Linked DNA regions of Homo sapiens. The protein of the gene in region 1 purifies or fractionates together with the protein of each later gene. This does not show direct contact. Each region holds a gene or a part of one and is shown in the gene's direction. Other genes may lie near its edges.

Evidence for each region. Proteins that work in one complex are often made in the same cells at the same time.
Region 2: the proteins of FBN2 (region 1) and ZNF74 purify together in Homo sapiens (co-immunoprecipitation; one large-scale study listed by IntAct). This does not show direct contact.
Region 3: the proteins of FBN2 (region 1) and ELSPBP1 purify together in Homo sapiens (co-immunoprecipitation; one large-scale study listed by IntAct). This does not show direct contact.
Region 4: the proteins of FBN2 (region 1) and EMID1 purify together in Homo sapiens (co-immunoprecipitation; one large-scale study listed by IntAct). This does not show direct contact.

What each region holds. Positions count from the first base shown.
Region 1 is NC_000005.10:128,531,746-128,535,245, reverse strand, and holds part of FBN2 (fibrillin-2 precursor), read left to right. Parts: intron 1-3,500.
Region 2 is NC_000022.11:20,397,151-20,400,650, forward strand, and holds part of ZNF74 (zinc finger protein 74), read left to right. Parts: intron 1-2,444; exon of another isoform or gene 2,445-2,540; intron 2,541-3,481; coding exon 3,482-3,500. UniProt on the Homo sapiens protein: May play a role in RNA metabolism.
Region 3 is NC_000019.10:47,993,380-47,997,431, forward strand, and holds the start of ELSPBP1 (epididymal sperm-binding protein 1 precursor), read left to right. Parts: upstream 1-1,252; 5' UTR 1,253-1,432; intron 1,433-4,052.
Region 4 is NC_000022.11:29,208,896-29,212,395, forward strand, and holds part of EMID1 (EMI domain-containing protein 1 isoform 1 precursor), read left to right. Parts: intron 1-3,500.

The sequences.
Region 1 (3,500 bases):
AATTTCTTCTTATTTTTTCTACCTTAACATCCCACTATTTCCAATGGCAAAAATAGGAAACAACTGTGTTATTTAAAGTGACTTATAAATATTTTGAACAAATCCTCTGATTATAATAAGCCTTTGCTTTATTTTTTAAAAGAACATGTTCTGCATTCTTTTCTCTCCAACACAGAAGTCATATGTGAGGCATTAATGGAGGGTGGGTTTACTCTTTCAGGCCAGTAGGGCATTACCATGGCTGCTTTAAACTTACACGGTTTTTTAGACTCCTGAAACAGCTAACGTCACTCATCACACACCTGCCATACTAGCTGGGAGTGACTTAGGCACGGCGGAAAGTCTGACTCACTAAATGTAATGAATGTGACTGCCATTATTGAGTTGGAGAGCAGCCGAGGAGGAGGGATTGGTTCATGGTACGTGTTGAAAATCTGTAAAGTCAGATTTTATTGGATCAGTGTGGAATGGGAATTCCAGAGAGCAGAGCCTTCCAGAATATTTGCAGTAGAAATATATGTATGGCCCCACTGATCACTGGTAGAAAATCAGCTTTGAAAATCTCAGGGTAACAGTGACTATTGTAATCTGCATTTCTGAGACTTGAAATATTTGGATGGTTATGAGCTACATTGGAATTTACACGTATCAGAAATCTATGAGAGTAAACTTTGAAATGATCTTTATATCTGTAAGAAACATTTATAACACTTGTGTCAAGACGTATCTACAAAAATATTTATTAGAAACACATCTAAAAATTCTAAGTACCTAAGATTATTAAACAGTGCACAAAATAGGGACAGTGTAATACCTTTATATTCTATTGCATGAGTCTCATTTAATGCTAATAGCCTGCATTCAATTCAGTAGTTCAATTAGTCTGACATTTAAAATGATCATATGTAGAGGTAATAAGTGAAATGAAACCGTTATAAACTCAAAATCAAGAATTTTAATTCCAGGCCTTCCTGATGATAATGAATTAAGTAAATTATTATATTTATTGGATTTATCTGTATCACACCATTTAGCAAAAGAAAGTATCTGAGACCATTTACAAAAAAGAAAATAAATAAAATACAAATAAATAAAAACCAAATATTAATTTTCTCATACATTTGTACCTCAGCATTCTTTTAATATAGAAAAATAAAAAATGGTCAACAGAATTTTAGTGTTTGACAGGCTTTATAAGGAGAAGATATTAAAAAGAAACTGTAATTCTCCAAGTTCTGGAAACCTAATGCATTTTGATTTGAGTCTCTATGTTTTGTTGGTATTGTGCTTAGTTGTAGCCTAGAAAAATTACTGAAGTACTTCCAAACTTCCAAATATTCATTTCCAAAAGTACGGAATTGACTTTCTCACCTTTTTTTTTTTAATCTTCTTAGAACATGAAGCAATGAAACAATTTGCTTATTAATTTATTTATTGTGAAATTATGCTATGAACAGTATTTTGATCAATATAATAAGAGTGGGATGAGGTTGGCTGGACTAAATAACATTTGAGACCTGAGGAAACATCAGAGCATTCCGGTATAATTCCTTTATGTTATGCTACCAAATGAAAACACTGAACCCAGAAAGGCTGTGGGTTTTTCTGGAGCTCATAGCAGATCAATGGCAGAGTGACAACTAAACTTCAGACCTTTTGGGTACTATGTATTCTTTACCTGGCCATGTGACTTCTCACAGCATCACTGAAGTCTCAGCCCCTAGGTCCTGTCTCCCTCTCCCTCTGGTATTTCTAGGTCTCATAGTTTTAGTAATTGTGGGAGGGACGTATTCAGTAAGTGTACCATAGTCTGAGGCTGTTGTGGGGCAAAAGGGCCTCAGCATTCTTGCTTCTCATTGGCTCACAGATACAGAGTATATACCTGTATCCACGACAGGTAAATGCCTGAGAATGCTCAGTCTCCAGCCCATCAAACCTTCATTTGGTTTGGAACCCGGGTGGAGGTACTTTGGGTCTCCTCTCTTAAGCCTAGACTAAATATTGGCCTTCTGGGGAGGAGGAAACTTTGAAATAAAACAATGTTTTAATGCACATTTGTCATTGGAGAGTTACTGGTGATCAGAAACTGTAGTACATTTTAAGAAGTAAGAGTCAACTCCATGGCAGGAAACATATTCTTGCCTAAAATATTTTTATCTTAACATCACAGTATTTGACACTATTCACTTTTTCTTTTTTTATTAATTTGAGACAGGATCTGGCTGTCATCCAGACTGGAATGCAGTGGCATGATCACAGCTCACTGCAGCCTTGACCTCTCGGGCTCAAGCTGCATTCTGACCTCAGCCTCCTGAGTAGCTGGGACTATGGGCACATGCCAATGTGCAAGGCTAATTTTTAAAAAAATTTTCGTAGCGTTGGGGTCTGCCCAGGCTGATCTCCAACTTCTAGGCTCAAGTGATCCATTTGCCTAAGGCTCCCAAGGTGCTGGGATTACAGACATGAGCCACCATACCCAGCCCACTGTTTTCATTTATAAGAAGTACTAATGCTAGTAGTAATATATGGATATCAGAAGGCATCTTGGAGAAGAAAAACAATTAGTGAGTTAGTTTACTTCTGCAGGAAATGCTTTTTTCATTGTTGAGGGTCCCAAATCTCTTTGAAAGTTGTGGGACCTTTCCCTAACTACAGCCAGTTTCAGAGCATTTCCAGACTTTCTTCTTGTCTTTATATATCCAGTCATGGCATGAGCATTAAAGTACACAGCCCTTGTGCCGAAAGAGAGAACTCAATTATGGTTATAGAGAGAAATCTCTCAGCTCCTAAATGAACTGTCTCTAAACATGGGAGAGACTTCCCATTCGAAGGTACTTGGCTACAAGTGTGGAGTATCTGTGGAATGTATTGTGTCAGTGAGCCTAACATTCTTTGCTGTGATGACCCTCATACCTTTCTGTTCATTGGAGGTCACAGCTGCAGGAGGCTTTGACTCTCCCCACCATCAAAATGCCACAGTAGCTTTTCTGAGCAGTAGGAATACGCTAGGTTGTGGAGATAATATGGAAGGAGAAAGGCTGTAGGAAGGAGAGGGAATTATTGAGGGGACCAAAGATTGATCACAGGGTAGGTCAGATACCAGCCTGGAAGGAATGTGTGTGGAACCCTTGAGGCTTGGCCAAGTCATTAGAACTGGAGCCTCTGGTTCAGCCAATTTCATGTTGTCTGTCTCCTGTGAAGGCTTTTGCATAGTGGGCTGTATTTTCTCTATTCCTGCAACCCTCCCAACTACTTAGAATCAAGGCTGTCTTCTCTGGGTGAATTCTGCATTTTAAACTCTCAGTCTTTAATGAAAGAGACAACCTGTATTGATAAGACAATTAAAGATTTAGGATTATGCAATTTTTTTTTCCTTATTGCAAAGCTTTAACTGTTTATTAAAAAAGTAATAATCCATACATAAGCCCATCATGCAGTGAGATCCATTGTACTGTTTGGTGAAAGTTCTTTTAGACCTTTTAAAGCCAGTAAATATGTGT
Region 2 (3,500 bases), on another chromosome or scaffold:
ACTGCAGCCTTCAACTCCTGGGCTCAAGCAAATCCCCCACCTCGGCCTCCTAAGTAGTTGGGACCAACGTGTGTGCCCCCACACCTGGCTTGGAGCCTTGTTTCAGCCCATTTTCTCCTTCCCTCGGCTATCGTCATCCTTCATGCCTGCATGCCTCAGTTAGGGGTGTGTTCTCAGCATTTGTCCTCATCTCTACCTCCTCATCTGAAATCCAGTGTTTTGGGGGGTAAGGTTTTATTGAGGTGTAATTTATATACAGCACAGTTGTACAATTTTAAGTATACAATTTGATGAGGTTGAGCAAACGTATACAGTTGTGTAACCAGCACCACAATCATGATATGGGACGTTTCCATGACCCAAAAATGTCCTCATGCCCCTGTGCATTCAGTGGTCTCCCCTCTCCCCTTGGTAACCACTATAGTTTTGCTGTAGATTTTCCTCTTTAAGGATTTCATATGGAATTTATATTATGTGGTCTTTTGTCTCTGCTTTATTTCGCTTAGCATATGCTTTTGAGTTTATCCATATTGTTGTGTGAATCAGTAGTTTGTTCCTTTTTATTGGTGAGTAATATTCCATTTGTATTAGTCTGCTAGGGTTGCCATACAAAGTATGGCAGGAGGGCTTAAATGACAGAAATGTATTTCCTCACAGTTCCAGAGGCAAGAAATCTGAAATCAAGGTGTCAGCAGGGTTGATTTCTTCTGAGGCTTCTCCTTGGCTTGTAGATGGCCACCTTTTCCCCGCATCTTCACATGGTCTTACCTCTTCTATGTCTGTGTCCAAATTTCCTCTTCTTATGAGGACACCAGTTATATTGGATCAAGGCCCACTGCATTGAATTCATTTTAACTGAATTACTTCTTTAAAGAACCTCTCTCCAGGCCGGGTGCAGTGGCTCACGCCTGTAACCCCAGCATTTTGGGAGGCTGAGGTGGGTGGAACACTTGAGGTCAGGAGTTCAAGACCAGCCGGCCAACATGGTGAAACCCTGTCTCTACTAAAAATACAAAAATTTAGCTGGGCGTTAGTTCTCGCCTGTAGTCCTAGCTACTCAGGAGGCTGAGGCAGGAGAATCTCTTGAACCCAGGAGGCAGAGGTTGCAGTGAGCTGAGATTGCACCACTGTACTCCAGCCTGGGTGACAGAGTGAGACCATGTCTCAAAAAAAAAAAAAAAAAAAAAAAACCTCTCTCGGAGTTACCAAGCATTGAGACATAAGAATTTGAGGTGAGGGGTATACATTTCATCCCATTGCTCCATTGGATGGAGCAAACTGCTCCGCAGTTTGCTTATCCATTCACCAGCCGATGGACATTTAGGTTACTCATAGGCTTTTGCTATTACAAATAAACCCGCTATAAATATTTGAGTACACGTATGGCTGTGCATTTTAATTTCTCTTGCATAAATACCTAGGTGTGAAATTGCTGAGCCATATAGTAAATATATGTTTGTCAATTTTATTGATCTTTTCAAAAAACAATTTTTTTGTTTTATTGATTTTTCTCTATTTTCTGTTTTCCATTTCAGAGATTTCTGATCCTTATTATCTCCTTGGTGTCTTAAGATTGAAACTTACTTTACTTACTTTAGTGTCTTAAGATTGAAACATAGATATTGATTTGATACCTTTTTTCCTCATATAGCATTCAGCGTTGTAAATTTCTAAGCACTGCCTCAACTATATCCTACAACTTTTGTTATGTCACATTTTCACTTTTATTCAGCTCAAAATAGCTTCTAATTTCCCTAGTGATGTATTCTTCAGCCATATGTTATTTCAGAATGTGTTGTTTCATTTCCTAATATTTAGGGCATTTTCCAGATAACTTTCTATTATGGATTTCTGATTTAATTCTATTGTCATCAAAGAATGAACTTTGTGTGATTTAAAGTCTTTCAAGTCTACCAAGATTTATTTTATTTCCCAGAGTGTGGTTTATCTTGGTAAATGTTCCACATGCCCTTGAAAAAATATGTATTATGCCTTTGTTGGTTAGAGTGTTATGTAAATATCAGTTAAGTCAAGTTGAATGATGGTGTTTTTTAATTGTTCTGTCAGTTTTTGCATTATGTATTTTGAAGCTCTTTTAGTAGATACATTTATATTTAGGATTGCTATGAGTTCTTAATGAATTAACTGTTTTATCATTATGTAATATTCTCTTTGTCTCTGATAGTCCTCTCTCTGAAATCTACTTTGCTATTACTATAGGCACTTGAGCTTTTTTTTTTTAAATTAGTATTTGCAGGGTTTATCTTTTTCTATCCTATCACTTTTAACCTATCTTTGTATGTAAAGTGGGTTTCTGTAGCTTGCTTTTTGAATTCAGTTTGACAATCTCCACCTTTTAATTGGAGTGTTTAAACTATTCGCATTTAGTGTAATTATTAATATGGTTGGATTTACATGTCCTTTTTTTTTTTTTCTTTTGACAGAGTTTGGCTCTTGTCACCCAGGCTGGAGTGCAGTGGCGCAATCTTGGCTCACTGCAACCTCCACCTCTTGGGTTCAAGCAATTCTCCTGACCTCAGGTGATCTGCCACCTTGGCCTCCCAAGTGCTGGGATTATAGGCGTGAGCCACCCCACCCGGCCTTGCTATTAGTTTTCTATGTCTTATGTCTTTTTTGTTTCTCATTTCCTCCCTTAATGACTTCTTTTGAGGTAAACACATACTGTTCTAATATACTCTTAATTCCTCTGATTTCATTAATATTTTTCACCTTTTAGTTATTTGATTGGATGCTGGACATTGTGAATTTTACTTTGTTGAGTAGGTTTTTGGAATTCCTTGTTTCTGGGATTTGTTCTGGGATGCAGTGAAATTACTTGGCATCTATTTGATCCTTTCAAGGATCAAAGCAAGTCTGGAGTTGGGTGGTGGCCAGGATGCCCAGGCCCAGGGGGAGCAGGCAGGAAGGATTGGAAGGCAGTCAGGTGAGGACTGCAGGTAGCCTCTCTTAGTCCCTTGGGGCACAGAACTTGCTGATATATACAAGGTTTCCTTCCTTAGAGTGTAATAACAGTTTCTAGTCTGGGATCGGATCCTTTTGCGTTACTGAGCTTTGAATAGAGTTGCTGGGATTTTTGTACTATTAATATTCTCTCAAATTTTTAAGTTTGAAATTCTTGACTCCAGGAAGCATAGCATCTCACCCAGGACTTAGAGCCTGATACAACAGCCATGTACAGCCCCTGGGTCCCACCGCAAGTTGCCAGGGCCCTGTGGTGTCTATTCAGACCTGCTTTCCCAATCTAGAAGGTGGTGTGGGAATGCATGCCAATTCCCAGCCCCCCTCCCTGCCCCTGGTCCCCGAATTCAGTCATGGTCAGTGTCTACAGCACAACCTTCTGGCATGGGAGAAGGTCACCTGAGGTTAACCCTTTACTTGTAGGGTCCTTAATCAATCTCTGGCTCCTTTGGAACCATGGACACAGAATCAGTCCTGGGTGAGAACCTATATGTCATTTCAGGAATCGGTGAGTTTCAAGG
Region 3 (4,052 bases), on another chromosome or scaffold:
TTTTGGAAATGACTGTTGCCTTCACTTATTTCTAACATTTCTTTTTTCTTTTCTTTTTTTTTCTTTCTTTTCTTTTTTTTTTTTTTTTACATGGAGTCTCACTCTGTTTCCCAGGCTGGAGTGCGGTAGCGTGATCTTGGCTCACTGAAACCTCCACCTCCTGAGTTCAAGCGATTCTCCTGCCTCAGCCTCCCAAGCAGCTGGGACCAGAGGCGTGTGCCAGCAGACCCAGCTAATTTTTGTATTTTTACAAAAATACAAAAATTTTATTTTTGGGGTGTGCTGGGGTGTGCCAGCAGACCCCAGCAGAGATGGGGTTTCACCATGTTGGCCAGGCTGGTCTTGAATTCCTGACCTCAGGTGATCCACCGGCCTCGGCCTCCCAAAGTGCTGGGATTACAGGCATGAGCCACTGTGCCTGGCACCTCTTTCCTTCTTGTTTGAACATCTTTTACAGATCTTGATTATATTCTACAACATAATGGGTGGTCTCTGGCACACTGCCTTTTTGCTATTATTATTGATACTTTATGAAGACCAAGTGTGCTAAGACATTGTACATTTGCGGAGCCACCCATTCTCCCCTTTAACATCTTTGTTTCATGTCACTCTTCACTGCATTGCATGTCATCAGTTTCCCATTCTGCAAGTATTTCTTCAATCAGTTTCCCTTTATTATTAGCCATACGAGATCCAAAAATCCCTTAGCAGGTTAATGTGGACTGGGTGCAGTGGCTCATGCCTGTAATCCCAGCACTTTAGGAGGCCAAGGTGGGTAGATCACCTGAGGCCAGGAATTTGACACTAGCCTGGCCAACCTGGTGAAACCCTGTCTCTCCTAAAAAATACAAAAATTAGCTGGGTGTGGTGGCATGTGTCTGTGGTCCCAGCTACTTGGGAGGCTGAGGCAGGAGAAAGGCTTGAACCCGGGAGGTGGAGGTTGTGGTAAGCCAAGATCATACCATTGCACTCCAGCCTGGGCAACAGAGCAAAATTCTATCTAAAAAAAAAAAGAAAGAAAGAAAAGAAAAGAAAATAGTAGGGCTTTTTCATTGTTCAGCTGAAACCTCTCCAGCTCCTCATAGCTGAATTTCTGGGAACGTTCCCTCCTCTGTTCATTGATATTCTTGTCCCTGACCCCAGCCCCCGCAAGGCCCCTTCTGTGTACACTTGACTGAATTTTATGGGCCTCGTGGATATGCATGGGCTTATCTCCAGACATCATAAATTAACCACAGCTGATCTCATCCAGACTGCCTTCTGACAGTAACCACTGATGAAGAACCCTCCTTTGAGAAGCTGCCTTTGTGTCCTACAGACAGGCTGGGGCCAAAGCCATTCAACCAATCCCCAGATAATCCAGAGCTCTTGGGAGCAGAACCTTAAAGAGAGATCGTGGAGAGAGCCAGGGCCCAGAAGAACTCTCTCAAAGGTACATTTTGACCCGGAAACTTGGGAGGGTGTGACAAGTGGGGTCTTAGGGCCCCCATAGCAAAGAAGGAAGGTCTAGAGCATCATGGTGCACTAGAAATATAATACGAGCCACATAAATCATTGTAAGTTTTATAGCAGAAGCACTTTAAAAAACTAAGAAGAGTGCAATTTATTTTAATAACATGTTCTGTGGAATCCATGTATATCTAAACGATTATCATTTCAACACATAATGAATACAAATAATTATTAATGAGATACTTTACATTTTTTCCCTATACTTTGTCTTCAGAATCAATAGGTATCTTACACTTACAACATAGAACAATTTGAACTTTCCCATTTCAAGTGCTCAAGAACCAGAAGTAGCTGGTGGCTGCCATATTGGTTCTGGAAGGGGACAGCCAGAGAAAGTAGGGAAGGTGGTCTTGTGGGTGAGGTCCTTTCTCTGTTAATAAACTCAAAGAAATGGGTTAAACCAGATTCTATGAATGATGTAATGCTAAGGAAGGTTGCCTGAATCCCAAGCTTAGGGAAGAAACTGAAGAAAAGGGAACAAGTTACCTGTTAAGAGACTGGGTGAATTACTTATTAAATTCTTGGTAGTGGATTAAAATCTTCATGGTTCTGTCAATGTTTGGACCATTTCTCCAAGGTAAGGCTTACTCTCCCTATTTTAGGAAAAAGAAAGTTGAGATTCAAAAAGAGCTTACTGAGATCCTGTTGCTTCTCCCTCCAAAGGCAGCCTAAATATGTAATAGAAGAGGTGTGTGTGTGCGCCTAGAGGTGGAGGGAAGGCTTACACTGAAGTTTTGTTTCAGATCTGGGGTCATTTGCTGCTGAGAAGCAGAAGGACTCATTATTTTGAAGGTACACTATACTTCAGTGACTTTACAGCCCCATGTGTGCCTGTAATTATTCACAATGGCTTCTATAGTTTAGGTTTTATCTCCACTAAACAGATAGGAATACTGACTTGGAGTTCAGAGAGGTGAAATGACCTTCCCAAGGCCACCCAGTTGAAACATGGGAGAGGTAGGATTTGAACCCTGGTTGGTTGGGTGCTATTATCTTCTCACCGCTCCACTGTGAAATTATTTTGGCTTAAGAGAACGAGAGGGCAGAGGCTGTGGGCTAAGCTGCCTCTTGGGCACCCTATCAGGGCCTTAATACTACCAGTTGTATCTGCCATTATTTTCCATGTTGGGTGGTAGATATTGGTGCCAATGTCTTATCTATAGCTGTTTGAAGACAGCTATCATATCTGGTTCCTCTTGGTACCCACCACATTTCCTTATAGATGATAGGGTTCTTGAATACTCATTGGATGGGTGGTGGATTGAAGGAAGATTAAAGAATGAAAGGAAGGATGGGTGGATAGAAGAATGGATGAACAGTGAAAGAATGGATGGATGGAAGGATGGATGAGAAGTGGATGAATAAACTGAAGGATGGATGAAACGATTTATCTCTGATTGTTGAAGGCAGAAATCATGTATGGTTCCTCTTGGTACTTGACACAGTTTCTTATGGATGGTGGGTTTCTTAAATACTTATTTGATGAATGATTGATGGATGGATGATAAGAGGATGGATTCAATGAATAATGGATGAATAGAAGGATAAATGAATGGACAGATGAGTGGATAGATAGATGGCTGGTGAAAGATGGGCAAAAGGATGGGAGAATTGATAGACAGATGGAAGAATGGGTGGAAGGATGAATGGGTGGATGAATTGATGGATGGATGTATGGATGATGGAAGAAGATAGATGAAAAGATGGATAGATGGAGGAATGGATGTAAGAATGGGTGGAAGGATACATGGGTGGATGGGTGGATGGATGGATGATGAAAGAAGAGTTGGTAAAGGGATGGTTGATGGATGGATGGATGAGGGAATATTAACAATGAAGAGTATCATTAAGCAGAGAAAAAATTTCTCAGAAGGTAATATTTTCAGGAAAGTTTGAAAGCCAATAAATAACAAAAGTAAAAGAAGAGAATTAGAACATTCTCAAAATGTTTGCTTAATTAATTAATTACTGCCGGTCTAGCATGGTGAATGAATGTTATCATCATCATCATCGTCATCATTAATGGCCAACATTTATTGTGAGTTATCTCTATAGCACGCATTGTCTTAAGCATTTTGTATCTTTCATCTAATTCAATCCTCCCAACAACTCTATGAAGTAGAACTGTTTATTAGCATCCCCATTTTATAGAGGGGTAAGCTGTGAAGTACCTTATTAAATGTCACTCTGCTAGGCACCACTGAAACATCCACACAGGTTTTTAATTACTGGCATGCCAGTGGAATTGGAATGCCAACACCAAGAGGCCCCGGCACAGCGCTTTGCTCTATAGATGTTCAATAAATTTGGTAAGTCAATAACTACCTCATAAAATTAATCCATTCCTAAGACAGCCATCTCATTGTTGCAGATTTTTCATTTTGTGATTTTAAACTGCCTCCTATTGCTTTACTCAGGGTGTTCTATCTTTTTTAAAAACCATTTTAACTCTGCATGTTTTCATGTGAGCATATGTGCATGCATATACCTGTATATGTGCACATATGATGTGTGTATATTACACATGCCTGTATACATAT
Region 4 (3,500 bases), on another chromosome or scaffold:
TTCCCCCGCTGGAGGAAATTCTGCTGTCCCCATTTGCAGATGGACAAAATGAGGTCCAGAGAGGGTCAGGGCCTTGTCCAAGGTCACCGATGTAGGAAGCAGCAGAGCCAGGACTGGAACTTCGCCCCTACTGCGGGGCTCTGGCTCTCATCATACCACCCCTGCCCGCCCGGTCCTTTCTTTCTTCTCCTTTTCATCACAGCCCTTGGCCCCGGGCCCGCTTGGCTGCCTCCTGCAATTAGCCCCTATCACTGTTCCGGATCGCAGCCCTGGGCCCTACAGAGACAAAGTCCCCTGGGCCCCTCGTGGCAGGGGGTGGAGTGTGGGTGTAGGTGGGGGGCCTTTGTGGGAGTGGCCGGTGCCAGGCTGAGCTGGTCTGGCCTGTTTCTCCCCTCCTGGAGGCCTCTGGGGGCCTGGAGGTGCTGAGTGGGCAGAAGTGTTGGGCCCAGGAGGGAAGTGCCGCCTCTTCCCAGCCCCTGCCCTCACCAACCCCACTGCCCAGCCTCATCCAGCTCTTGGGCAGCTTATCAATGACCACACCCCAGGGAAGGAAGCCCCCAGGGGCTGCAGGGATGGAGCACATGGGGATGGGTCCCTTCATCTGTGGAAACCTCGGGTCCCAGCTCCTCTGGCCGGAGCTGCTGCCTGTTCTCCATCATTCAGTCATTCAACAAACATCGCTGAGCGTCCTCAGGCTGAGCCCTACACAAACTTGGTCCCAGCTCATGCCCTCCTCCAGCACCTGCGTGAGTGAGTAAAGCCCAGGGCTATTGTGAGTGGCTAATGGGTGGTGCCCAACCCCTGCCTGGGCCTGAGGGCTGAGACCCAAAGGATGAATAAGAGTTGGCTGGAGCAAGAGGGAGGGGCTTTCCAGGCAGAGGGATCTTCATATGCTAAGATCAGAGGTGGGAGGAGGGGCTGCATGAGTGTGCAGGAGAGGTGAGCAGAATAAGAAGTGAAGGGCAGCGCTTGCAGGGCTATAGGGAGTCATGGTGGGCTGCGGACTCCACAGTGGGTGGTGGCAACATTAGGTCTGCACTTTAGAAAGAGCCTCCTGCTACCCCTGGAAGGTGGATAGAGGTGCAGGAGGGTGGCAGGGCCAGGCTGGGACCCTGTGGAGGAGCTCGGGCTGATGCTAGGAGTCCTGGGGCTGGGGTCCTCAAGGTGGGGGATGGGGTAATTATTAGTGATCCCCAGGTGGAGGGGGCAAGGGACTAAACCTGAACTCCACATGGCATGAGTGTCCTCTCCTGTCCAAAAGGTCTGGCTAGCCGGCCACCAGCTCCATGTCTCCTAAGGAGAGGATTCAAGCACAGTCCAGATTATGGCAACCAGGCAGGGACCCACATGGCAAATTTTTTTTTTTTTTTTTTTTGAGACGGAGTTTTGCTCCTGTTGCCCAGGCTGGAGTGCAATGGCGCGATCTTGGCTCACCGCAATCTCTGCCTCCTGGGTTTAAGCGATTCTCCTGCCTGGTATTACAGGCATGCACCACCATGCCTGGCTAATTTTGTATTTTTAGTAGAGATGGGGTTTCTCCATGTTGGTCAGGCTGGTCTCGAACTCCCGACCTCAGGTGATCCACCTGCCTCAGCCTCCCAAAGTGTTGCGATTACAGGCTTGAGCCACTGCGCCCGGCCAACAATTTTTTTTAAGAGACAAAGTGTCACTCTATTGCCCAGGCTGTAGTGCAGTGGCGTGAATATAGCTCATTACAGCCTCAAACTCCTGAGCTGAAACGATCCTCATCTCAGCCTCCCAAGTAGCTGTGACTACAGGCAAGCACCAATGGTAGAGATTTTAATTAAGGAAGAAGAAGGAAAAATACTGTTTTTTTTCTCTAGCTCCTCCCTGGTAAAAAGAAGGACAGCTCTGGCCATTGTGGACCATCACAGGCCCACCTCTCCCGGCCTAGTCTGGGGGCTGGGCATGTGAGGGCTGTTGTCCACGTGTGTGTGTGTGAGGGCAGATGGCTCTGTGCGTGCCTGTATAGATATGTGTGAGAAGATGGCCAACAGTACCCTGCTGGGCCTGCCTTCACCTGTTTGTGTACATGTGAGAAGTGTGTGTGTGTGTACACATGTGCCTGCATGTGCATGGATGTACATGAATGAGAGCACTGTGGGGCCGTGTGTGGACATGCCCAGAGATCACAGCTTCAGCCTATATGCGTCCATGCGAGAGGGCATGCGTGTGTGTGTGCATGTGCAGGTGTGTCAGTGTGTGTGCAAGTGTGAACGCATTTGCAGGGAGAAGGTTTGACTGTGACTGTGTGCCCCTCTGGGCCTGCTTTGGTCTGTCTATGTCCATGTGACAGAGCCGATGAGTGTGTGTATGTGAATGTGTGAGGGCACAGAGTCCTGTATCTGCAGGTATGGACTTGTGTGCAGGGAGGACGGTCATTTCTGTGATTAAGTGTCCTGCTGGATTTGCCTTAGCCTGTCTGTGTGCGTTTGTGTGCATGTATGGAGCTCTGTGTTTATGTGGATCTGTGTGTGCACACGGAGGCCCGTGTGTCCATGCGTTGTGTGTACATATGCCTATGTGTGTGTGCACGTGCTCACTGCAGTGCGTATTTGCCCTGTGTGCCTGTGTGTGCATGTGTGTGCGTGTATCTGTGTGTTTGTGTGGATCTGTGTGCATATGCATGAACATGTGTGTCCATGCATTGTGTGTACATATGCCTGTGTGTGTCTGTGTGTACGTGCTCACTGCCATGCATATTTGCTCCTGTGTGCCTGTGTGTGCATGTGTGTGCGTGCATTTGCGTGTGCAGGCACTGTGTGTTTGCGAGCATCTGCTCACTGGCATAGTGTATTCATTCTGTGTCCAGGGCCCCTTTCCTGTCTCCAGAGCTTCCGACTGTCCTCTGCCCAGATTGTCCTCTTCCTCCCTCCCTCCTTCACTCACGAAGCCCCTGGGCCAGCCTGGTGAGTGTCACGTAGGCTCCAAGGAGCCTCTGAACCCCCTTAACCTGTACACCAAGTTTTATGCGTATTTCTGGAGAGGAGCCACGATTCACCGCAATTTTCTAAAGGGGCTTATGCCCCCACTCTCCATATTCAACCCTAACAGGTTCAAAACCACACCTTTGGTTTTTTTTGTTTTGAGACAGAGTTTCGCTCTGCTGCCCAGGCTGGAGTGCAGTGGCACGATCTGGGCTCACTGCAACCTCTGCCTCCCGGGTTCAAACAATTCTCCTGCTTCAGCCTCCTAAGTAGCTGGGATTACAGGCGCACACCACCACGCCCAGCTAATTTTTGTATTTTTAGTAGAGACGAGGTTTTGCCTTGTTGCCCAGGCTGGTCTCAAACTCCTGATCTTCAAGTGATCCACCTGCCTTGGCCTGCCAACGTGCTGGGATTACAGGCGTAAGCCACTGCACCCGACCCTTTTTTTTAATTAAAAAAAATTTTTTTATAGAGATGGGGTTCTCACCGTGTTGCCCAGGCTGGTCTTGAACTCTTGGCCTCAAGCAATCCTCCTTGCCTCAGCCTCCA